2 separate regions of the Homo sapiens genome follow, and region 2 is linked to region 1. The links come from fine-mapping of genetic effects on gene expression. A gene starts in region 1. The other region holds a variant in brackets. All regions are shown on one strand. Distances are from middle to middle. Region 1 holds the start of TBKBP1 (TBK1 binding protein 1). Region 2 overlaps TBX21 (T-box transcription factor 21).

What was found. PIP is the estimated chance that this variant, and not a neighbour inherited with it, causes the effect.
Region 2: its variant is the best candidate, but not a certain one, in a credible set for the expression of TBKBP1 in whole blood (INTERVAL, PIP 0.56).

The regions. Positions count from the first base shown.
Region 1 is chr17:47,688,814-47,703,173 of GRCh38, reverse strand. It overlaps TBKBP1 (TBK1 binding protein 1), which reads right to left and starts at 9,013. Exons shown (of 10, transcript NM_001394755.1): 1 at 8,980-9,013; 2 at 6,837-7,095; 3 at 6,341-6,463; 4 at 5,981-6,085; 5 at 4,399-4,579; 6 at 3,679-3,854; 7 at 3,477-3,538. The coding sequence starts at 7,061. RefSeq lists enhancers at 1-24, 7,217-7,897, 7,898-8,577, 8,578-9,258 and silencers at 7,413-7,572, 8,355-8,414, 8,665-8,794.
Region 2 is chr17:47,734,883-47,744,455 of GRCh38, reverse strand. It overlaps TBX21 (T-box transcription factor 21), which reads right to left. Exons shown (of 6, transcript NM_013351.2): 2 at 1,692-1,846; 3 at 1,264-1,385; 4 at 103-261. Among named protein-coding and RNA genes, the nearest start is that of TBX21, 6.4 kb to the right of the region's middle. The variant C/T (reference allele first, on the strand shown) is at 4,428.

The sequences.
Region 1 (14,360 bases):
GCTGAGCCCCCAACGTTGGGAAGAAAGAAAGGCCTATAGTTTTTTCCTCATCGCCCATACTGAGTCCCCATCTTCTCCCAGATGGACCCCGCACAGATGAGCCCACCCTCCCTTACCGGGCCCTTATTCCCCTCACAGACCCCCTGTCCCTTCGGAGCCCTCATCCCCTTCAAGAAGTTCCCCCCCCCGCATTTCCCCTCCCCCTCAGCACGGCCATACCCTCCAAAAGGCCCCACTCTGGAACCCCAGGCTGGGGAGCTGGGCCCAGAGAGAAGGGGGTTGTGGGTGCTGCGCCTTCCACCTGGGCTGGGAACCCCCCAAGGGTCAGGGTCTTTACCTCCCTGTGCATCCTCAGGAGCAGGGTGGGCTCTGCTCCCACCGCCTCCCTCATCACTGCCTTTGGCCTCTGCGTGACCCCCAGTGGCTCTTCCTCTGGGGCAATTTGTCTCCCTGGGCTCTGTCCCCAGGAGCTGGGCAAACCAAACCATGGGTTTCCCAGGGGGTCAGACCTGGAGGGTAGTAGTCTGCCTCGGTCTGGTCTGGGTGTCTGTTTTCGTGGGAACGTTAATGGCCAGAACTTGTGGGCCAGGGGCTGGGAGGGAAGGAACTGGGAAACCCTGGGGCTGGGGCTAGGATCCAGAGAAGGGAATTAATAGAGATGGGGGTGGGGGCGGTTAACCTTGAGGACTCCCGCAATAAAACTGGCTGCCCCGGAGGTGTCTAGACCAAGACAGGTGGGCATACATACATACAGAGTTCACCATACAGAAGACTCCCGCCTAAGAGTGGGCTGGACTCAGGAATTGGGTGTACCCCTCTTCAGCCTTCATATCCTGGTCCTCCTCACCCCAATCACACCCCAAACCTGGGTCATCCAGCCTCGACACTCACTCCACTCCCGGAAAAGCCTACTTGTAAAATTCCCACCAGCCTGGAAAGTCAGGTGGAAACAGAAGAAAGAGGGGCACTAGTGGGGGAAGAGGAGCTGAAAGCAAGTGACTGAGGCTTCCTTGGGTGGAAGGACAGGGGAGGGAGCACTCGGGAAGCAGCCTATTACCAAAAGGAGCTGAGTTTATAAGAAAATAAAACTATCGGGGTAGTGAGGACTTCCTCTGAGAATTAACGCTCGCCAAACTAGGGCTGTCCAGAGATGCTCGCTCGGCCTGAAAGGAAGCGTGTGGCTGGGCAGCAGAGCCTGGCTGGCTCCAGATGCAGAGATCTGGGAGGCTGGAGGCAGAGCCTAATCACAGGGAAGGAGGGGAGGAGCCAGGAGGTGGCCTCCAGTAAGCCTGTGGGGCCAGCCCCCAAGCAGAGGCCAGCTCCCTCCAGCCAAAGGGCCTGAGAAGGGCAGGAGCCTTGAGAGAGAGAGGGAAGGGGCTGCTCTTGCCAGAATGGGCAGCGTGGATGATACGGCCTCCTAGCCCCTTATAGGGTGGGCTTCCTTTCACTCACACAATACAACCTTGGCCCCTGGGAGCCCTGCCCCTTCTCTGCTTCTACCCACCGCCTCACCTTCCTCTCCCATCTCTCAGCAATGACTGGCCCCTGAGCCTGTGAGGGAAACTGGATCCAGAGAGGTAGAGTCCAAGTCAGTAAAGAAAGGCCCCTGGGATTCAAAACCTGAAGAGCCAGACTCCAGCCCCACCAAAATGTCCTCCCTTGGAGTTCTACCAATTCAGGGAGATTCACTGCTGGTCTGGTAAGAGGGGACTGGGTTCAGTGACCCATGAAGGGCCCTACATCATGACTTCTGGGGCAAGCTAGGATTGGAGAGTGTGAGAGAGAGAGAGAGAGAGTGTGTGTGTGTGTGTGTGTGTGTCTGTGTGTGTCTGTGTGTTCCAGGTCTGGGCACATGGGCTATGATGGGCCCCAAGCTCCAGCCACAAGCTAGGGTGGACCCTCTCCACAAAGGCCTAGCTGAGGGGTCCCACCCACCAGTCCCACAAACTGGGTTCTCACCACCTCCCCAGCTATCACAGCTCCACCCAAGCCCTCACTCTTAGGTAGGGAGGTAGGCGAGGGGTATCCCCAGTTGGCCAGAAGCTGGGAGGCAGATAAGGAAGAAGCCTGCTGGGCAGGAGACCTCCGGAGCCCCGGAGCTGGGTATGCTATGCGGTGGAGGGTTAGTTCCTGCCCCTCTCTGGGCCTCAGTCTTCTCCTCCAATTAGAGTAGGGAGTCTGTGCCACACAGCTCATCTTAGGGGAGAGGACTTAGGCGGAAAGAGGTTTGAGCTCTATTTCTCAGAAAGTGGGAGAGGGTGAGTTCAGTGCGGATGTGAAAGGCACCAGGTTCCACTGTTGCCGGGTGGCTGCTCACCCCTCCCTTGCTGTCCAGTGCCCCCCTGGAGGCCCCAGCACTGGGCCCCCCACCAACACAGCTCCCTTGCCGCTCTCTGCTGCCCCTTTCTTGGTAGGATTCAAGGGAGTACCCTAGCAGAGCAGATTCTAACTCCCCACCCCACGGCTGTGTGAACCCATGGAAACCTCTCCTGTCTCTAAGCCTCAGGCTTCTCTCTCCTGAGATCAGCAGACAAGGCCCAACAAATCCCAAGAAACACCACCTCCCTCTTCCTCACTAGGGAGGGGAGGGTGAACCCAACTGGCCGGGCCTTGTCACTGGAATAGAAAATGGGGCCCTACGGAGGCCCAAAAGCTCAGCAGGGGACATTACACTGGACACAGCGACAAAGCAGCCGAGTAAGTGTCACTTAGCCCTGGCATCTCCAGAAGAGATGGGTTTGGGCCCCAGAGGAAAGCAAAGGGAATGTCCCAGATCCCAAACACTCAAGAACCCCACCTCCCAGGAGTCGAGACCAGCCTGACCAACATGGAGAAACCCCATCTCTACTAAAAATCCAAAAAAAAAAAAAAAAAAAAAAAAAAAGGTCCGGGCGCAGTGGCTCACTCCTATAATCCCAGCACTTTGGGAGGCCGAGGCGGGCGGATCACAAGGTCAGGAGATCGAGACCATCCTGGCTAACGCAGTGAAACCCCATCTCTACTAAAAATACAAAAAAAAATTAGCCAGGCGTAGTGGCGAGCGCCTGTAGTCCTAGCTACTCAGGAGGCTGAGGCAGGAGAATGGCGTGAACCAGGACGCGGAGCTTGCAGTGAGCCGAGATTGCGCCACTGCACTCAAGCCTGGGTGACAGAGCAAGACTCCGTCTCAAAAAAAAAAAAAAAATTAGCTAGGCATGGTGGTGCATGCCTGTAATCCCAGCTACTCGGGAGGCTGAGGCAGGAGAATTGCTTGAACCCGAGAGGCAGAGGTTGCGGTGAGCCAAGATCACGCCATTGCACTCCAGCCTGGGCAACAAGAGCGAAACTCCATCTCAAAAAAAAAAAAAAAGAACCCCACCTCCTTCCTATGAAGGATGCACACAGAGCAACAGCAGCCCAGACACCACACCCCTGAGGGCTGGGAGGGGAGGTCTCCCAAACATCACGGAGGGACCAGGGTTACCAATGTGACTTACTGATCATCCCCAACTCTTTTCACCCACGCCATGTCTCGCTCCGACTGGTTGGAGGCCAGATCCTAAGGAAGAAGATGAAGAGGTCAGAGCCCAAGCTCACCCCTGCCAGGGCCCTTGTCTACAGTTCCCTGGGCCAGTCTGCACACAGTGGGGAAGGCCCAGCCCTGGACCTCCAGAAGCTGTTCCAGGCCCCTGCATTTACCTGGGCCCGGGTCTCCTGCAGCTGCTTCAGCTCCCCCTGCAGCCGCTCGCACTCGGCCTGGAGCTGCTCCTCCCGGAGCTGAGCCCCCCGGGCCTCTCCCTGCGCGGCCTCCAAAGCCTCTTCTAGCCGCCGCCGCTCCAGGTCACTCACACTGGGTGTGGAGCCCGGCCAGCCTGCTGTCGGTGGACAGGACAACGTCAGGCGAGCTCAGCTGCCTCCTCCAGCTCCCAGAGCCAGAGTGAAACAGGAGGATGCAGCATGGGGACTCCAAGAGAGAAGCCAGGACAGCTAGCCAAGGAGGGATGACTGCGACAAGGGCAGCGAGGAAAGATGGGCTGAGCCGCATTTCTAATTTTCCTGGAGGCCAGGAAAAAAATAAGATGGGCTCTTGAAGGCTTTACTGGCCAGACTCAAGTCTAGAGCATCTGCAAGGGCCTCTCCTAGTCACAGCCAGAGACGGGGCGGGGGGACTCTGGGTGGGGGCGCCCTCTGCTGGCAGGCACAGGAATTGCAACGAGGTGATCAGGAATGACCGAGTTAGAAGGGGAGAAATTAGGGTAACAGTGGGTGAGGTGAGGGGACAGCAGGTAAGGGAGGATGGGATGATTATGGAGAAATAGATTATATTACAAATGGGATGGTAAGTAAGTGCGAGGTGTCTAGGAATGTTGAAATGGGGGTTGGGGACTAGGAGGTAAGTCGGGGTCACTGAGATCTCACCATGACTCAAGCCAGATCCCCCTCTCAGTGCCAGGTAGTGCAGGTCTAAATCAGTGCAGGGAGGGGCGGGGGCTGGCGGTGGGCTCAGGTTGGAGAAGGCTGCATCCTGGAGGCCTTGCTGTTGCCGCAGCTGCTGCTCCAAACCACAGATCTGACGCAGGTGCGTCTCCACCAGGGCCCTCTGGAGAGAGAGACAGAGGGGAGGGTCTGCACAGGCCCAGGACTTCCCCATGTCTGGAGAGTCATCACCCCAGACTACAGCAGAGGCCCCAGGTCACACATCCCAAGCCCACTCTCCAAGTGGCTGTGAGTGCAAAGTCTCCTCTCAGCCACCGCAATGCAGCTGTTGCGGGCTGTTGCCCCTGGCGAGGTCAAGTTAATGCCCCTGCTCTGTCATTAACACACAGGGACACTTAAAAGAACACTCAGCCCCCTGTTTGGAGGCCAGCCCCCCTCAGGAGCATCAGAACTTCCATTTGCATACATGACAAGAGCTTCTGGACTTCACCCACCTGATCCATAAAATGGGGATAACAGTCCCACACTCACCTCTTAGGGTTGTTTTGAGAATTAAAATGAGCTAGTGTATGCCAGGTGAAAAGAACAGTGCCTGGCACACCCCGAGTGCCACATAAATATCTATGATTATGAAGGCAAAGCATCTATACATGAATGCCCCATCACCCTCACCACAACCTGGTGAGGGTGTTAATATTTGCCCCACTTTTCAGAGGAGGGATGGAGGCTAAGTGACTTAACTGAGGTCATAGCTTAGGGTTGGCTGAGACCATGTCTCCTGATTTTTTTTTTTTTTTTTTTTTTTTTTGGAGACAGGGTCTGGCTATGTCACCCAGGCTGGAGTGCAGTGGCTTGATCTTGGCTCACCAAAGCTTCGATCTCCTGGGCTAAAGCGATCCTCCCACCTCAGCCTCCTGAGTAGCTGGGACCACAGGTGTGCACCACCACACCTGGCTAACTTCTTTTTTGTATTTTTTGTAGAGATGGGGTTTCACTATGTTGCCCAGGCTGGTCTCAAACTCCTTAACCTCCCAAAGTGCTGAGATTATAGGCGTGAGCCACCATACCTGGCCTGTCTCTTGATTTTGACCTGCTCACCGGCACAGCCATACCCTGACTCGGAAGCACACCCAAGCACAGGCCCATCCTAGCAGTCACACACTCCTGGTCACCTCTGCCCTCACCCTCACAGCCTCCCAAGGGCAGTGCTCACAGGCACAGGGTCACCCCAGCGTGAGAGCCAGGGCAGTGCTCACAGGCACAGGGTCACCCCAGCGTGACAGCCAGGCATACACACAGAGACAGAGGTTCCCACGGGGCCACTGCATGGCCAGGATGCACACAGACACCGCAACATGGATAACACATGCAGTCTCCCTCACAAGGGCAAATGGGCGGGCACTCACAGATACACATGAACACAAGCAGGGCACAAACAAGTGATGTGTGACACATGGGACTGCACTGTCACAGGCTGGAATCCTCACACACAGAACTAAATGCACACATGCACACACACAACCAGCTACACATCCTCAAGCACCTCCGGCTCCCCAGGCCTCACCATCTCCCTCAGCTCTGTCTCCAAGTCACTCTTCTCCACGCAGAGTTTCTCGTAGGCCTGGATCATCTCTCCAAGCTGTTCTTCCTGCTCCTTGTTCTTCTGTAACTGGATGAGGCCCAGAGGGCCCCACCACAGGGTCAGTCCCACACTGGACTTGGAGTTGGAGAGCTCCCTGCACCTCCCCACCCCCACTCCCAGCACCCTATGGAGGGGCAGGAGGAGCTGCAGCTGGGCTTAGGGAGGACCTGGCCATCTCTAATCAAAGGGCAGAGGCCAGATGCTGGGGGGTGTGGAGGGAAGGGTATCAGAAACAGACTGGAGCAAGATGCTCAGGGGGTGCGCCCAGCCTGGTAGGCTCACCTCATGCTGGAACTGGTTGAGCCGTTGCTGCAGGCTGACCTTCTCCACCTCCAGCAGGGAGCCATCCTTGATTTCATACAGAGAAAAGCCATGCTCCTCTCCAAAGTCACTGATCAGTGGGTACTGCAGGTGGGGTGGAGCTTCAGGAGAGTGGATTCCCGGGTGCCCAGCCCAGGCCTCAGCCTGGCTGTGCCCCCAACCCACAACCTGCCTCAGACCTTTGACCCTCCTTCTCCTTGGCTAGTGGGATCCCAATTCCCATGGGTCTGTAGCCATCTCCCACCCACCGGATCTGTTTTAGATCCCAGATCCAGCCCTTCTGAAGCCAACAGGAGACAGTTCGCATCCGGAACAGCCACGTCTCTCATGGGAGACCCTCAAGTTCCCAAGAGTCTGCACAGTGACCCCTCTTTTGGATCCCTGGTATCTACCAGATTCCCAGTCCCCCTCCCCATCCCATACACTCTATCAGGCGCCCTCCTCTCCAAGTTCTGACCTTGATCTCGTAGACTTTGAGGCGGCGTCGGAGGGTGGCGTTCTCCCTCTCCAGGCCCCCCAGCCGTTCCTTGATGTCTCCGTAAGCAGTGATGAGGGCAAAGTGGGAGGCGGAGCACATGTCGCCCCCAAGCGAGGGGTCTCCGGGACTGTCCAGCCACACCTCACTAGGCCCCAGGGCCTCCTGCGTCAGGATGCTGATGTCGTCCTCGAACATGGACTCCATGGTGAGGGCCGGGCCGCGGCCCACACGGGGCCTCCTAGGAGAGCAGGAGCAACCGTGGACAGGGCCGTCTGTCTAGGGTTTGTCCCTGGTACCCCTCTCCCTGGCTCTGCACTCCCTGGGGCCGGCTAAGATGCAACCCAGAAACTTCCTGCCCCGAGCTCAGCAGGGACTCCCATGGCCCCTTCCCAGACTCCTCAGCCCCATCCTCTCTGCCGCCTTGGGGAAAAGGGGCTGGAACCAGGTGAAGACCCCGCTGCCAGGGTGTTGACAAGTAGGGACAAGTAAGCCAGGCCGGCAGCAGGGGCAGGCTCCTGCCAGAACCCAGGGAGACCTGTGGATGGGAGAGGGCTGCCTTCCCAGCCGGGCCCGGCCCATTCCTCCGCGCTTCTCCACCCCAGGCCTTACTTCCCCAAATACCTCGCCGCCAAGCTCCTCAGCCTGGGCCTCTGGCACCCCAGCTCCTCCCCAAGGAAGGCCCAGAGCTGCGCGAGGGTCGGCCCCTCCACAGTCGGCACGCCCTCGGCTGCACCCCCGCCCAACTTCCCCACTTCCTCCCGCAGGATCCCAGAGTTCAGGAAAAGGAAGCGCCTCCCCCGGGCGCACCGGGGCTGTGGCAGCGGTCCAGGACCCCTTGGCCCCTGACCTGGGACCCACAGGAAGTCCTTGGCTGAGTGTTACGGGGCGCAAACTGGGGAAGGGGACCCAGGTGGAAGGGGACGCGAACGAATTCCCAAGGCTGTCTCAGGGTGCCCGCGCACCGGGAAATGGGGAACCCTACGAGGGGGCAGGAATGACTCAGGCTCCCGAAAGCAGGAGTAGGCAGTGAGGGGGTGCGTGTGTACTTCTCTCGGGCCTGGTTATGAATGTGTGTCTGGGGTTGGCGTATGGGGGGAGTGTGCGTCTGTGAATGAGTGTAGGTGTGTCAGTCAATGAGTGCCTTCGGGGTCGCAGGGGCGTCGGGACGGAGTGGGGCAGCGACCAGGAGGCTGGTGTGTGCACGCGTGCGTGAGCGCGTGGGCAGGGTGGCACGTCCGGGCCGCGTGTCACGTGAGACGCGAGGGGACTGTCCGAGGTGTGTGCGCGCGCTGGAGCGTTATGTGCACCCCGGAGAGGGGGCTCGGCAGGGAGCTGTGAGTTCAGACAGCGGGGCCCCCAGGTCGGGCTGCAGGAGCTTGGGGTGCAAAGGGCTCCGGCGCAGGCTCCAATTCAATCCACCCCCCCCCCTCCGCCACCCACAGGCCCATCTAAGTGCCAGGGAAACGCGAGTGACTGGGTCTGAGTAAGGAGTGTGTGCGCGCGTTTGTAGGGCCGGCCCCACCTTTAACCCTCTCCTTCCCACGCCATCCCCTCCCCCCAGCTCCGCGCGCCAGCGCTTACCACACCCCCCCAGACCCCCGCCCGCCCCTCTGCGCCCACCCCGCTGGCGGGGCTCTGTCCCCGAGGCCGCACCACAAATGCCTCCTTCCTCCGCATTCCTCTCTGGGCCCAGCGCCCGGGTGAGCGCAATGGAAGGCGGCTGGGGAAGGGGTGAGTGCCTCTGTCGGCCCGGGCCCCTCCTGCGGCCCCTTTAAGAGCCGCCCTTTAAACCCCTTTCGCTCGGCCGACAGAAATTGTCGCCCCTCCCCTCTCGGGGGCCGAGACCACGCAGCCCCCTCCCCCACAACCGGCCGAGCCCTGGGCCCCCGGACACCCTCTCGGGGCCGGGGAAGGGGCTCCGGGAGTGGCGCGGCCTGAGGAACGGCGGCGGAGGGGGACGCGAGGGGATGAGGGCGGCCGACACCGGACCCCTTCCCTCCCAGCCATCCCGTGCGGCTGCCAGCCGCCCTCCTGCCGCCTCCTCCTGCCCACCCCGCGACCCCTGGGGCCCAGCCCGGGCGCCGCTCCCCTCCCCCAGCCCTAGCCCCAGCCGGGGACTCACAGCTGCTGCCGGTTCCTGCTTGTAATCGCAGCTTACCCCCTCCGCCTGCTCCCTCCCCAAACGGGCACCAGTGCCCCCACCCCCCTGGTACCGCGCTCTGCTCCTCGCCCTGTCGCCGCCGCCGGGTCTCTCCCCACCCCCCACCCCTCCCCCCAACCCCCTCCCTCCCGTCCGCCCCGCTCCTCCTCCGCCGCCGCCGCCTCCTCCGCCTCCTCCTCCCCGGCTGCTCCGGGTTTCTCCAGCTGGGAAGGCGCCCCGGACCCCGCCGCTGCCACCACCACGTGGCGAGAGGCGGCGGCCCCTACGGTGCGGCCCTTCCTGGCAGCGCGCCCGGAGCCCACCGGCTCCCTGCGGCGCCAGCGGCCCGCGCTGGCGCCCCCTCCCCGACGCCTCCCGGCGCAGTGTGGCGTGGTGGCGTGTGTTGGGGGCGTCTGCGGTCAGTGCAGGGGCCCGGCTGATGCTTTGGTTGTTTTGGTTGTTTAGTTATGGGCTGTATATTTGGGGAGGAAGTGGGGCTATTTATCTGGCTTTTTTTTTTTTTTTTTGGTCTTTGCGCTTTTGAGAAGGAAATCATTAGACCTGCTCTTCGTTGCTCTTGGTAAAAGGGGCATTGCTGCGATAAATACATTGAACATAGGGTACAGAGAGATTAAAGCTGTAACTTCTTTGGAAGTGAGAGTAAACTAAGGAGGTCAAAGATTCATTCATGAAGAAGGACAGCCATCTCCCTCCCCACACACCACTCCCCGGCCACCCTCAAGTACCCACAGGTCAGGGAAATGAAGAAACAACAGATGTCACCCTGTGCACAAAGATTATTTGAGCACCTGCCAAACTGCTGGGCAAGAGAAACAAGTTTTTTGCTACTTTCCTGCTGTGTGACCTTGGGCAAGTTACCTTAACCTTTCTAAGCTGGAGATCATGCCCCACCTAAGCACTCTCATGGAGGAAGAATGGGGATCAGAACTAAATACAGCAGCCTGCGAATGCTCAGGAAGTGTTAACGATGTCATTTTGAGTATTGCCTGGTGGATTAAATAATGTGGACAGAGGCATGGTCAGCCTAGCTGCAGGTAGAGAATGATCAGGGGAACCCTGGAGCACTCTGGCTGAAGAGCATCCTCTGTGGACAGGGAGGCAAAGCCCGGAAGCAGGGGATAAGCTGGGCGGGGGCTTTTGGCAGATTCAGCCTTAGCTGCGAAGACTGCTGGGAACCTGAGCCTACCTTTTTGGCTCCTGAGGTGGGATGGGGGTGGGAATCTCCGAGGGGGAGGATGGAAGGAAAAGGTTTCTTGCTCTCTCTGAGCTTTGAAAAGCAGCAGCTGCCATCTTTCCTCACTGCTGGGAGAAAATTGGACTGAGAGGTGAGCTTCTACCAGGAGAGCCAGCCAGAGCTCTAGACTCATTCTCTTCATAGAAGGGGGGATTCTCAGTGGCTTCCTTCCTCCTCCTCCTGCTGGGTTCCCTTTCAGTCTTTCCTGCCAGCACTGGCTCCCGTTTGTAGTCCAGAACAGGAAGGCAGGTCAGCCACTTGTTCTCTGAGGCACTAGCTTTCTCTGAACCATGTGGGATGACCTATCTACCCTCTAGATATGAAGGCAAACCAGTGGGGACATCTGTCACCCCACTAATCCCAAGGGCTAGGCAGATGTTCCTTTCCCTAGTACTCCCCAAGATCTCTTCTGAAGCAAGGGACCAGGCAAAAGATTGGAGGCTAGACTAGGAGGTGTAGGGTTGTCTCTGGGACCCTCGGTGACCTTGGACTTGGCCACAAACAGGACCCATAAGACCAACTGGCAAGCCCTCCCTCACTGGAAAAAGGGGTCCCAGGACCCTCTAAGCACACACTGTCTGGGATGAGTCATCAGCCCCCTGCTGCTGCTTGGATGCTCAGGGCCTAATTGAGTCACCTGGCAGGGTGCAGCCAAATGCTTCTATCCTTGGTTCTAGGTGGTTGGTGGCAAAAGTCCATTAGGCCTGGTTTAGGTGCCCTAAAATCCTCCCCCTCCCCCAATCTGGACCTGATCTCATTGCATTCTCCATTTCTAGTTCTGCTGCTCATACCAGGCAGTTCTGAGAGCAGAGATTATATCCCATCCATCCTTGTATTCTAAGGTGCCCTGAGGGTTGGTACCTGCTCGTTGTATATTTATTCGGCAAAGATTTCTTGAACATCTATTATGTGCTGGGTGCTGAGAATACAGTGCTGAACATGTCTCTGACAGGTATACATGTCTCTTGCTCTCTTAGAGCTTGCAGTATGGTAGAGAAGTCAGAAAAATAAAAAGATGAATAAGTAAAACCACTAGAAATTGTGATAAAGGACCAGGCACAGTGGCTCATGCCTGTAATCCCAGCACTTTGTGGGGCTGAGGCAGGCAGATCACCTGAGGTCAGGACTTTGAGACCAGCCTGACCAACATGGTGAAACCCGTCTCTACTAAACATGCAAAAATTAGCCAGGCATGACGGTGGGTCCCTGTAATCCCAGCTACTCGGGAGGCTGAGGCAGAAGAATTGCTTGAACCCAGGAGGTAGAGGTTGCAGTGAACCGAGGTGACCCCATTGCACTCCAGCCTGGGTGACAAGAGCGAAACTCCGTCTCAAAAAAAAGAAAGAAGGAAAGAAGGAAGGAAGGAAATTGTGATAAAGGATAAAAAGAAACACCAAGGGGCAGTACTAGAGAAGAATGGGAGGATGGGATCTGCTTCACAGTATTCAGAGAAGGTCTCCTTGATGAGCTCTTACAATTTTTTTTTTTTAAAAGACAGGGTCTTTCTCTGGCGCCCAGGCTGGAGTGCAGTGGTGCAATTTTGGCTCACTGCAGCTTCGCCCTCCTGGGCTAAGGTGATCCTCCCACCTCAGTCTCCAGGCGTGGTGGCTTGCGCCTCAGCTGGGACTACAGGCGTATGCCACACGCCCGGCTAATTTTTGTATTTTTTGTAGAGACAAGGTTTCACCATGTAGCCCAGGCTGCTCTCAAAATCCTGGGTTCAAGCCATCCACCTGCCTCGGCCTCCCAAAGTGCTGTGATTACAGGCATGAGCCACCGCACCTGGCTAAGCTAAATCTTAAAAGAGTAAGAAAGTATGTTCTTTGTTGAATGAATAAATAAATGAGGCAGTGTGACTTAAGACTACTTCACTTTTCTAGGCCTGTTTCCTCATCTGAGAAAGCTGAACATTGGTCTGAATACCCTTTTTATTTTTATTTTTATTTTTTTATGAGACGGAGTCTCGCTCTGTCACCCAGGCTGGAGTGCAGTGGCGTGGTCTCCGCTCACTGCAAGCTCCGCCTCCCAGGTTCATGCCATTCTCCTGCCTCAGCCTCCTGAGTAGCTGGAACTACAGGCGCCCGCCACCACGCCCAGCTAATTTTTTGTATTTTTAGTAGAGATGGGGTCTCGATCTCCTGACCTCGTGATCCGCCTGCCTCGGCATTCCAAAGTGCTGGGATTACAGGCGTGAGACACCATGCCCAGCTGGTCTGAATCCCTTTTAAGAGCCCCTGGTATTGGCAGGGCTCATCATGGTGGAGACAATAATAGGGGAGATGGTGAAGGGGATAGGAGCCACAGTGGGAGGACAGTGGGGAAAGTGGTGGACAGTGGTCAGGCATGAGTTGTAAAACATTTCTAAATGGCCTTCACAGGTGTGATAACAGAGGACCCACCTCCAATCGTTAAGGTAGGAGAGACAGTGCAAATGCAGGCCCCCAGAGCCAGGCCCTGCCAGTGTTTCCTCCTTGGAAACCACCAGGGAGACTCTCCCACTCCCATGACTCTTGCTCTGGAGGCTGTCTTTCCTGTCCCATTATTGCCTGAAAAGAGTAGGAGGAGGTGACATTAGCAGCCAGTTAAAGAGGCTGAATCAAAATAAAACCCAGATGACTCAAATGGAACCCTGGCGGGCAGGAAAATTGATTAGCCCCATGTGACTGCAGGATCTAGGTGCCACCTTCGCCCTCCAGTTCCAGACCCTAGAAAGTGGGCCATTCACCATGCAAGCATCCTGGGACTCCAACTGCAGCTGCAGGTGTTCCATCAGATGGGAGGGTAGGGCAGTGGTAGAAAGACATTCCTTCACCACGTCCCCAAATTCCTGTGGAGGTAATGCAGAGCCCCTAATTGAATTAGTAGGGTTTGGGAAGGAATAGAGTGGTTTTTTTTTTTTTTTTTTTTGAGACGGAGTTTCACTCTTGTTGCCCTGGCTGGAGTGCAATGGCACCATCGCGGCTCACCGCAGCCTCCACCTCCCGGGTTCAAGCAATTCTCCTGCCTCAGTCTCCCGAGTAGCTGGGATTACAGGCATGTGCCACCATGCCTGGCTAATTTTGTATTTTTAGTAGAGATGGGGTTTCTCCATGTTGGTCAGGCTGGTCTCAAACTCCCAACCTCAGGTGATCCCCCACCTCAGCCTCCCAAAGTGCTGGGATTACAGGCATGAGCCACCACGCCCAGATGTTTTTTGTTTTTTATAATTCCATATGTGCTTCATTTTTCTCCACAGCCATGTTCATTTCTGCTATCTCCCAAACAGAATTTTTAAAAGGTTATATTGAGGTCAGGCGCGGTGGCTTACGCCTGTAATCCCAGCACTTTGGGAGGCCGAAGCGGGTGGATCACAAGGTCAGGAGATCGAAACCATCCTGGCTAACACGGTGAAACCCCGTCTCTACTAAAAATACAAAAAATTACCCGGGCGTGGTGGCGGGCGCCTGTAGTCCCAGCTACTCAGGAGGCTGAGGCAGGAGAATGGCGTGAACCCGGGAGGCGGAGCTTGCAGTGAGCCGAGATCGCGCCACTGCACTCCAGCCTGGGTGACAGAGCAAGACTCCGTCTCAAAAAAAAAAAAAAAAAAGTTATATTGAATTATTGAATATTGATTATTTATCCATCAGAATGTGAGCTCCACAGGAAGATTTTGTTTGCTTATTCACTGCTATATCCCCAGTGTCTCCTGGCACGTAAACAGTTGTTTGGTAAGTGCAGTAGCGCAATCACATCTCACTGCAGACTTGATCGCCTGGGCCCAAGTGATCCTCCTGCCTCATCCTCCCACCACACCTGGCTAATGTGTTTTTTTGTTTTTGTTTTTGAGATGGAGTTTCGCTCTTGTCGTCCAGGCTGGAGTACAATGGCGCGATCTCAGCTCACCGCAACCTCCACCTCCCAGGTTCAAGTGATTCTCCTGCCTTGGCCTCCTGAGTAGCTGGGATTGTAGGCATGTGCCATCACGCCCAGCTAATTTTGTATTTTTAGTTGAGACGGGGTTTCACCATGTTGGTCAGGCTGGTCTTGAACTCCTGACCTCAGGTGATCCGCCTGCCTCGGCCTCCCAAAGTGATGGGATTACAGGCGTGAGCCACTGCGCCCAGCCTGT
Region 2 (9,573 bases), 44 kb before region 1:
TGAGTCCTGAGTCTGGGGCTCGGGAACTTTCCAAATCCCTCCCAAGGAAGACAGTGGGCCCCACTCTGCCCTCCTCCCCACCGGGGCTCAGGCAGCCCTCACCTCGGCATTCTGGTAGGCAGTCACGGCAATGAACTGGGTTTCTTGGAAAGTAAAGATATGCGTGTTGGAAGCGTTGCAGGCTGCCTCTGGCTCTCCGTCGTTCACCTCAACGATATGCAGCCGGGGCTGGTACTTATGGAGGGACTGGAGCACAATCATCTGTAGACAGAGCAAGACGGTTGTAGGGGTGGGGAGGAAGGATTTCGAGGATCCCATCACCCCCACCAACAGCTGGCCCCACGTGAGGCTAGCAAGCACCTTGAGGTCATCCTGTCCATTCCCCTGCTCTGCCACCATGTAACTTCCCCCAAGCTTTCCAACTCCAGTGTCCGGACTCTTTGGGGCACCAATTCTAGCCTCTTGCCCCCTCTTCTACCTCCAGATGTCAATTGAGACCAAGGTATCAGCACAAACAGGGCTTTAGGGCAAGGGCACTTTTTTTTCTTTTTTCTTTTTTCTTTTTTTTTTTTTTTTGAGACGGAGTCTCACTCTGTCACCCAGGCTGGAGTGCAATGGCATGATCTCAGCTCACTGTAACCTCTGCCTCCCGGGTTCAAGCGATTCTCCTGCCTCCGCCTCTTGAGTAGCTGGGATTACAGGCACCCGCCACCATGCTTGGCTAATTTTTGTATTTTTAGTAGAGACGGGGTTTCATCATCTTGGCCAGGCTGGTCTTGAACTCCTGACCTTGTGATCCACCCGCCTTGGCCTCCCAAAGTGCTGGGATTATGGGTGTGAGCCACCACACCCAGCCAGCAAGGGCACTTTTAACAGGATTGTTCAACCTAGAGAAACTCGGCATCTATTCCCTGGGACCACAGGGCCAACTCTGTGCCTTTCATGGTGCCGGAGCAATGGCAACCCATGATTTGGTGAAGAAACCCTGAGGCTGGGTTGGCCTGTGTGGCCTGAATATGACCCCCGTCCAAGATTCAGCTTCATCCCATCTCATCTTCCTCCCAAGGTGGGTGAGAAACAGCCAGAGTTTAGGAAGGAGGAAAAATGACCCTTCGTTTAGGACAGAAGAAAAACGAACCTTCCTTCCTGTAGGAAGGAAGAAAAAATGAACCAAACTGGCCCCGCAGGACCCTTGTGGCCTTGGAGGTCTCAGACCCAGGGTGGGGAGCAGGGCGAGGCTACCTTTTGAAGAGCAGGTCCTACCTGGGTCACATTGTTGGACGCCCCCTTGTTGTTTGTGAGCTTTAGTTTCCCAAATGAAACTTCCTGGCGCATCCAGTGCGCTCCTGTGTTGGGGGAGTCCGGGTGGACGTACAGGCGGTTTCCTGTGGACAGTTCACCTCTTTGACATGCAGCCCCCGGGACAGAACCCTGGTGATGTAGGGCTTTGCCTGTCCCGAGAGGGACGTAAGGAAGGACACAGGGGGAGGACCAGGCAGGGAAGGGCAGAGGACTCAGCAGAGGACAGGCTAGAGCAAAGCAGGAAGCCAGAAACAGGAGGGATGCAATGGCGTGGGATGGAGTGGGAGGGGGTTAAAGGTCTAGGAATTAGGGGTAGGGGCTTGGTGGGCCCACCAGGGGGCGCCCAGTCCCAGCGAAACAGAGCCCACCGCTCCCAGGGGCGCGCGCACCTGGCATGCTGCCCTCGGCCTTTCCACACTGCACCCACTTGCCGCTCTGGTACCGCCAGTGGTGCTGGTCCACCAAGACCACGTCCACAAACATCCTGTAGTGGCTGGTGGGCTCCAGCCCGGCCACAGTAAATGACAGGAATGGGAACATCCGCCTGGAGAGAAGAGAGAAAGCCCCCAGCACCCATCAGCTCCAGCTTGACAGCCAGTCCCCCCTGCAACAGTGCCCAGGCATCAGTGGTGTGCTGTAGCCGGCTTCCTCCCACTCACAAGAACCAGCTGGAAGGTGTTTAGGGAGTTTGCCAGCCAGTGGTTAAACACAGCCATAATTAAAAATTAAATTATATAAACTTGCAATTCAAGACATATTAACAGTCAAAGTAGGCCCGGCACAGTGGCTCATGCCTGTAATCCCAGCACTTTGAGAGGCCAAGGCGGGCGGATCACCTGAGGTCAGGAGTTCGAGACCAGCCTGGCCAACATGGCGAAACCCCGTCTCTACTAAAAAGTACAACAACAACAACAAAAATAGCTGGGTGTGGTCGTGGGCGCCTGTAATCCTAGCTACTCAGGAGGCTGAGGCAGGAGAATGGCTTGAACCCAGGAGGCAGAGGTTACAGTGAGCTGAGATCGCGCCACTGCCCTCCAGCCTGGATGACAAGAGCAAGTCTCCATCTCAAAAAAAAAAAAAAGGAGTAAAAACTAAAAAATCATCACTGCCCAGTTATTTTACGTTTTACTATTGTCTGCACTGTCGAGGTTACTTCCGTCTATCGCAGCTGCATGGAGGAGGTACTAAATCACAGTGCACTGTGAGTCTCTTCCCGGCTCTGTGTTCAATGACTCACATGAGTCGCTTGAAATCATCCATAGCAGGAGTATTTACACCACAGGGATCAGCAAACACTACAAATCAGAGTTTTTTAAAATGTTCTTTCAGAGGGTCAGTTGCTCGACATCTACCTGCACACCCCTGTCTCTAACCTTAGCTGCTTCCTAGGAGGGGGCACCACCAGCTCTCCACAGGCAGTTCCTGGAAGGTCCTCACGCCTCAGTTCCTCAGCCACCCTCTCTGCCGTGGCTCTCACAGTGCTAACACACTCCCAGACCCATGACACCCACTCACAGGCCCTCCCTCTCCCATGCTCCTGGGTCTGCCACCTGCGGTATAGTCTGCCCTCAGCCTTTAGAGAAGTTGCACACATCCTAGTTGAACAGGGAGCTTCCCATCCACCTGAAAGAAGGCTCTATTGAACACGGGGCTCATGTTCAAAGTCCTTGTTTCCAGGAAAAGTAGAGGAAGTTAGGGGGTGGGATGCTGTATGATTCCGCTGTTGTGCCAGAGTAACAGATTCAGAAAAGAAGCACTCTTCTACCATCACCATCTCCACCACTAACACCTTCACTAGCCCCGTCACCACCACCACTACAACCAGCACCATCACCACCAGTAGCACTGTAACCACCCATCACCACCATCACAACCACCGTCACTACAACTGCCCCCTCCACCATCACGATAACCACGATCTCCACCAGCACCAGCACGGGCACCACCATCTACAGCCACCACCTTCACCATCACAACCACCACCAGTAGTACCGTCACTACAACCACCACCTCCACCAGCACCAATTCCATCACCAGCTCCAATGGCTTAGCCTTTCTCTTCTAACACAAGCAGGAAGAGCAGAGTTTTCAGAATGGCAGAAGCTAATCCTCATCAGAATTATTTTTCATTTCCACACACTTCCCCCTCCTCTCATGAGAAGCCCTGAAGGATGAGGAAAAAGGGACCTATCTGAGTCAGGAAACCTGGAGGAGGGAGGGTTCCAGGGGCCTAGGAACTGTTTTTGAGGGACTTCTAATCCCCAGAGGTCCCCAGGACAACTTACCTAACAACCTTGGGAAGGTGTCCTAGAAGGGTGCTGTCACACGCCTGTCTTCCCCTGACTTTCCTGAGTTGAGAAAAATAGATTACTACCCTATGACCCTGGATAAGTTAATTCTCAAGCCAAATCTCAGTTTCTTTTTGAAATGGAGTTTCGCTCTGTCATGCAGGCTGGAGTGCAGTGGCGTGATCTCAGCTCACTCTAACCTCCACCTTCCAGGTTCAAGTGATTCTCCTGCCTCAGCCTCCCAAGAGCTGGGACTACAGGCATGTGCCACCATACCCGGCTAATTTTTGTATTTTTAGTAGAGATGGAGTTTCACGTTGGCCAAGCTGGTCTCGAACTCCTGACCTCAAGTGGTCTACCCGCCTCAGGTTTCCAAAGTGCTGGGATTATAGACATGGGCCACTGCACCCAGCCCAAATCTCAGTTTCTTCACATGTAAATGGAGAGTCTAACTCCTGTCCATCTTTCCTCTGAAAGCTGTTAAAAAGTTCGAAAGATGGCCCAGCACAGTGGCTCACACTCGTAATCCCAGCACTTTGTGAGGCCGAGGAGGGTGGATTTCCTGAGCTCAGGAGTTCGAGACCAGCCTGGCCAACATAGTGAAACCCCATATTTACTAAAAATACAGAAAATTAGCCTGGTGTGGTGGCATGCACCTGTAGTCCCAGCTACTTTGGAGGCTGAGGCAAGGAGAATCGCTTGAACCTGGGAGGCGAAGGTTGCGGTGACCCGAGATGGCGCCACTGCACTCCAGCCTGGGCAACAGTGTGAGACTCCATCTCAAAGAAAAAATAAAAAATAAAATGTTATTTCCAATTTTATATTTGAAGAAACTGA[C/T]GCTCCGAGAGGTTTGGTGACGGTCCTCGGTGGGAGAGCAGAGGTGAGGTCTTCTGACTGCAGAGTGCATGCTGTGCTCTGTGGTCCCCATTTCTTCATATTCATTTTTTTCTTTCTTTTTTTTTAGACAGAGTCTCGCTCTGTCCCCCAGGCTGGAGTGCAGTGGTGTGATCTCGGCTCACTGCAACCTCTGCCTCCCAGGTTCAAGAGATTCTCCTTGACTACAGGCACCCAACACTGCGCCTGGCTAATTTTTTTTTTTTTTTTGAGACGGAGTCTCGCTCTGTTGCCCAGGCTGTAGTGCAGTGGTGTGATCTTGGCTCACTGCAAGCTCCGCCTCCAAGGTTCACGCCATTATTCTCCTGCCTCAGCCTCCCGAGTAGCTGGGACTACAGGCGCCCGCCACCACACCTGGCTAATTTTTGTACTTTTAGTAGAGACGGGGTTTCACCATGTTAATCAAGCTGGTCTCGAACTCCTGACCTCAGGTGATCCACTGGCCTCGACCTCCCAAAGTGCTGGGATTACAGGGGTGAGCCACCGCGCCAGGCCATACTGATTTTTTTTTAAGAGATGGAGTCTGCTATGCTGCACAGGCTCTGCTCAAATGCCTGGGCACAGGCAATCCTCCTGCCTTGGCCTCCCGAGTCACCCGAGCGGGGTTATAGGTGCTCACCACCATGCCCAGCTCATCCTGTTTTTATCACTAGTAGAGGGAAATGGAGACACAGGAAGAGGCTGGGGAAAAGGGAGAAGAGAAAGGAGATCTCGGTTTCTCCCTAAAAGTCTAGAATCACCACCAGCTGGAATCCCAAAATAGCCCCTGATTTACATGACACTTTGCTGGGAAGGAACCGAGAGTGGTGATGGGTCTGGTGTCAAATTGAGCGTCCCTAAAGGCCACTTACCATCCCACCCTCATAAGACAGGGTCCAAGACCCCAAATTCCTCTGCTGGCCCTAAGAACTAAGTAGCCTTGGGATGGTTCACAGGGTCGTCATACCTCTCCCAGATTCGGAGCTCCTGGCACAGGCTCTGCTTCACTGTAATTAAGTGCAAATTAAAATAGCAAGGAGATAGATAGTTCTTCTCAGTCATATTGGTCAATGTTTAAAAATTGATAATATTGGCCCGGCGTGGTGGCTCACGCCTGTAATCCCAGCACTTTGGGAGGCCGAGGCAGGTGGATCACCTGAGGTCAGGAGTTTGAGACCAGCCTGGGTAACATGGTGAAACCCCATCTCTATTAAAAATACAAAAATTAGCCAGGCGTGGTGGTGCATGCCGGTAATCCCAGCTACTTGGGAGGCTGAGGTGGGAGAATCGCTTGAACCTGGGAGGCGGAGGTTGCGGTGAGCAGAGATCATGCCACTGCACTTCAGCCTGGGCAACAGAACGAGACTTTGTCTCAAAAAAAAAAAAAATGTGATAATATCTACTGCTGATGAGGCTGTGAGAAAATGGGTCCTCTCATAGACTATTGGTGTGGGCGTAAATTGGTAGCACCTTTTGGGAGGGTATTCTGGCAATGTGTCGTACCTACCAAAGTACAAAATGTGCTTGGGCATCAAGGGAACTCCTCGTCTTACCAACCTCAGATCCACTTAATAGACTCAGACAGCCACTGGCAAACAGCCAGACAAAAAGCAAAGCTGCAGCCTGGGCAACATAGTGAGACCCCATCTCTACAAAAAATAGAAACAATTAGCCGGACATGGTGATGTGCGCCTATAGTCCCAGTTTCTCAGGAGGCTGGGATGGGAGGATTGCTTGAGCCCAGCAGGTTGAGGCTGCAGTGAGCCATAATCGCACCACTGCACTCCAGCGTGGGTGACAGAGCAAGACCATGTCTCATTTAAAAAAAATTTTTAATTAAAGTTGTTTTCACTTGCCCCAAGACAAATGAAACCAGTTAAGCATGCTTAAGCCTAAAAAAAATGTTTTTAGCTGGGCACAATGGCTCATGCCTGTAATCCCAGCACTTTGGGAGGCTGAGGCGGGAGATTGCTTGAGATCAGGGATTTGAGACCGCCTGGGCAACACAGTAATATTCTGTCTCCATAAAAAATAAATTAAAAAAAATTTTTTAAGATCTGAAAAGTTGGGCCAGGTGCGGTGGCTCACACCTGTAATCCCAGCACTTTGAGAGGCCGAGGCGGGGGATCACTTGAAGTCAGGTGTTTGGGACCAGCCTGGCCAACATGGCGAAACCCCGTCTCTACTAAAAATACATAAATTAGCTGGGCTTGGTGGCTTCTGCCTGTAATCCCAGCTACTTGGGAGGCTGAGGCAGGAGAATCACTTGAACCTGGGAGGTGCAGGTTGCAGTGAGCCAAGATTGAGCCACTGCACTCCAGCCTGGGGGACAGAGTGAGACTCCATCTCAAAAAAAAAAAAAGATGTAGAAAGTTATCGACTAAAGTTATCTATGTGGGAGGTTCAAGTCCACTTCCTGGCCCATGAAAAATATTACAAATAAAAAAATTAAAGTTCTTGGAGTTGGGAAAGTGGAGACAAAAAAAAATTGTAATGACTGTGAGGATAGCAAGGATAGTGTGGGACTGAAATTGTTGTTTTACCAACCTCTGTCTTCACATGCACAAATCCAAATGCAGATTGAGCTTAACACAACACAGCTACCCAAAGTTATCTTAATTATAATAATCAACCAATCACACCCAGAAAGTGGGGATTGCCAGCAATTAATACACACCCACACACCCACAGAGACACAGGCCTCTCTCTTCCTCTACTGAGAATGTCTACCATCAACTATTATATACTCGCCAACACATTCGCAACACACACACACTGCCACACAGAAACCCTCGCACAAGCCTGTGTGGGGCATTATCAGGCTGCCCCAAATCTCCAGACACAAACGTAGACACCAAAGTCTCCTACTGGGATAATCCACCGTTTTGTTCTCAGTTCCCCTCTCTCAGCCCCATCTGAGCTGCCTTGATCAATCTCCAGACCCAGGAATCACCCCCTGTGCCCTGCCCCATTTCTGCCCGTTGGGAAGAGCATGCCACTGGCGCTGGTCAATACCGAGGGATAGATCCAGGGTGGGTGGGAGAGGAAGAATCCGGGACGGCGTGAGTCAGCTCAAGGCAAAAAGCCGTGGGGCTGTAGGCTGTAGGTGGGCCTGAGGTGGGAGAACCTTTCAAAAAGGAAGAAGGTCATGGGTGATGTGGTGTGACTGGTGGGTCACTGGAACCCACGGAGGGATAGGCCAGCCCACAAAAGCAGGAAGACGGAAAGGAAGCTGTGCTATAAGCCCAAAAGCCTGTTTTGAGAGGAAATGGCCACTGATTTCCCAGATCTCAGGAGCCCAAGCTGAGAAGGTATGGAGGTAACCTGGGGCTAGTGGGACTGAATTGGGGTTGTGTGTCCTCTGTCCCCTCCATGGCAGCGTGGGGTCTATGAAGCCTGATCCAAGAAAAAGCACCAAAAGAAACAGTGAAGAGCCACTGCCTCCTTCAACAGGGACCCCGCGTATGGAGCCCCTCAGAATGGAGCAAAAAGTGTGAGGATTGGAAAACACACACACACACACATTTATGAAGCAATCAGAGAAGCTTGGTGATATTTAGGAAATTCTTTTCAGGTTTGCTAATGGTAATGCATTCATTTTAAAAAGTCATTTTTAGAGGTGCAGAGATAAAATAATATCTAGAATGTACTTAGTAATTACTATATTACTAATATAGTTGCAGACAGAAGAAGCGAAGTGAGGATGCAGAAACAAGATTGGACCCATATTGACAACTGTGGAAGCTGGGGATGGAAGTCTGTTACATTCTTCTGTCCATGTTTGTATGTAGTGGAATTTTTCATAATAAAAAAATGTAAGTGTATGTATCTAAAAGGGGGACAAAAAAACTTGTCAAGTGAGAATTACTCAGCAGGAACACCAAGGAAAGGAGGCCATGGGAGTAGAGATGGTGATACACACTTCGAGAATCATCCCCTCAAGTGCCTCCCTGAAGTGCTCTACAGCCTCCCTGAAGCTGGCTCTACAGGCAGAGAGGCAGCCCCCTAGCACTGGCCAACTCCCTAGAGTGCTGGCTGATGCTCCATCCACCCCATCCCTCAAGACTGGCAGGAGGAGGCAGAGGCCTGGCAGAGGCTGTGGGGAGACCCCAGCAAGGGCCCAGGGTGGGAAGTCCTCCTGACCACACAACAGAGTGGAAGGTTAAGAGGCCCCACTTCTGGTCTGCTGTGTGATGGAGTGCAAGCCCCTAGCTGACCCTGCAACTCAGTGACCTCAACTGTAAAATGGGGAGACTGCTTGGCCTACCTAACGCACAGTGAAATAATGGAAGTGAAAGCACTCTGAATGCATCAGGGCCTTCAGAGAGCGTGGGTGGCTGTTTTTACTGGTGGCCGTAGGGGGCCAGAGAAAGAAACCCAAGCAAATACTATCTGGGCTGTAGTGCCAGCTCTGCCTGCAATGAGTGTGTTGTGTGACCTTGGAAGAGTCTCTTGCTATCTCTGGGCCTGTTTCCCTGTCTGTGCAGTGAGAGGGACAGGATCTTCTGGGTCCCTTCCAATTCAGACACATTGGGACCAGAAGCTTGGGCTGTGTCTGGGTACACCCAAAGGGTGACTAGGGTTGGGGGGAGCAGAGAGAAATTATCAGAAGGCTTAAGAGATGAAGGCTGAGCCATCAAAGAACACGCCAACTTTCCTGGGTTCATCCCAGGGAAAGTGGAACAGCTCAGTAACTTGAAGCCAGTTGTGGCTGGCAACAGGTTCCCCAGTCCCAGGCTACCCCACAAAAATCATCTGGAGGGAAGAATGTTCCAGCAATGCCCAGATCGAATACCAACCTCTGGGGTCCAACATGGCCTTCTCCCTCTCCCCTCCACCCCAAGCCCCACGTTTGGTATCCACACCTCTCGGACCTGGGACCCAGCATCCCAGGTCCACCAATGACAACAGCCCTTCCACACTGGTCCTCGCTGGTCCCCTGCTCACATGGGCCGCACTGGGAAGGGTGGGTGCGCACAGCCCACATCAGACACAGTCCACTCCGGGGGTTGCTTACTAAACAAATACCACACAAGTCACAGGTTTCTGTTTCTTTCCTTGCGCAGGAGGCTCTATCCGGAAGCAGCACCCTCAGCCCCAAACTCTCCCC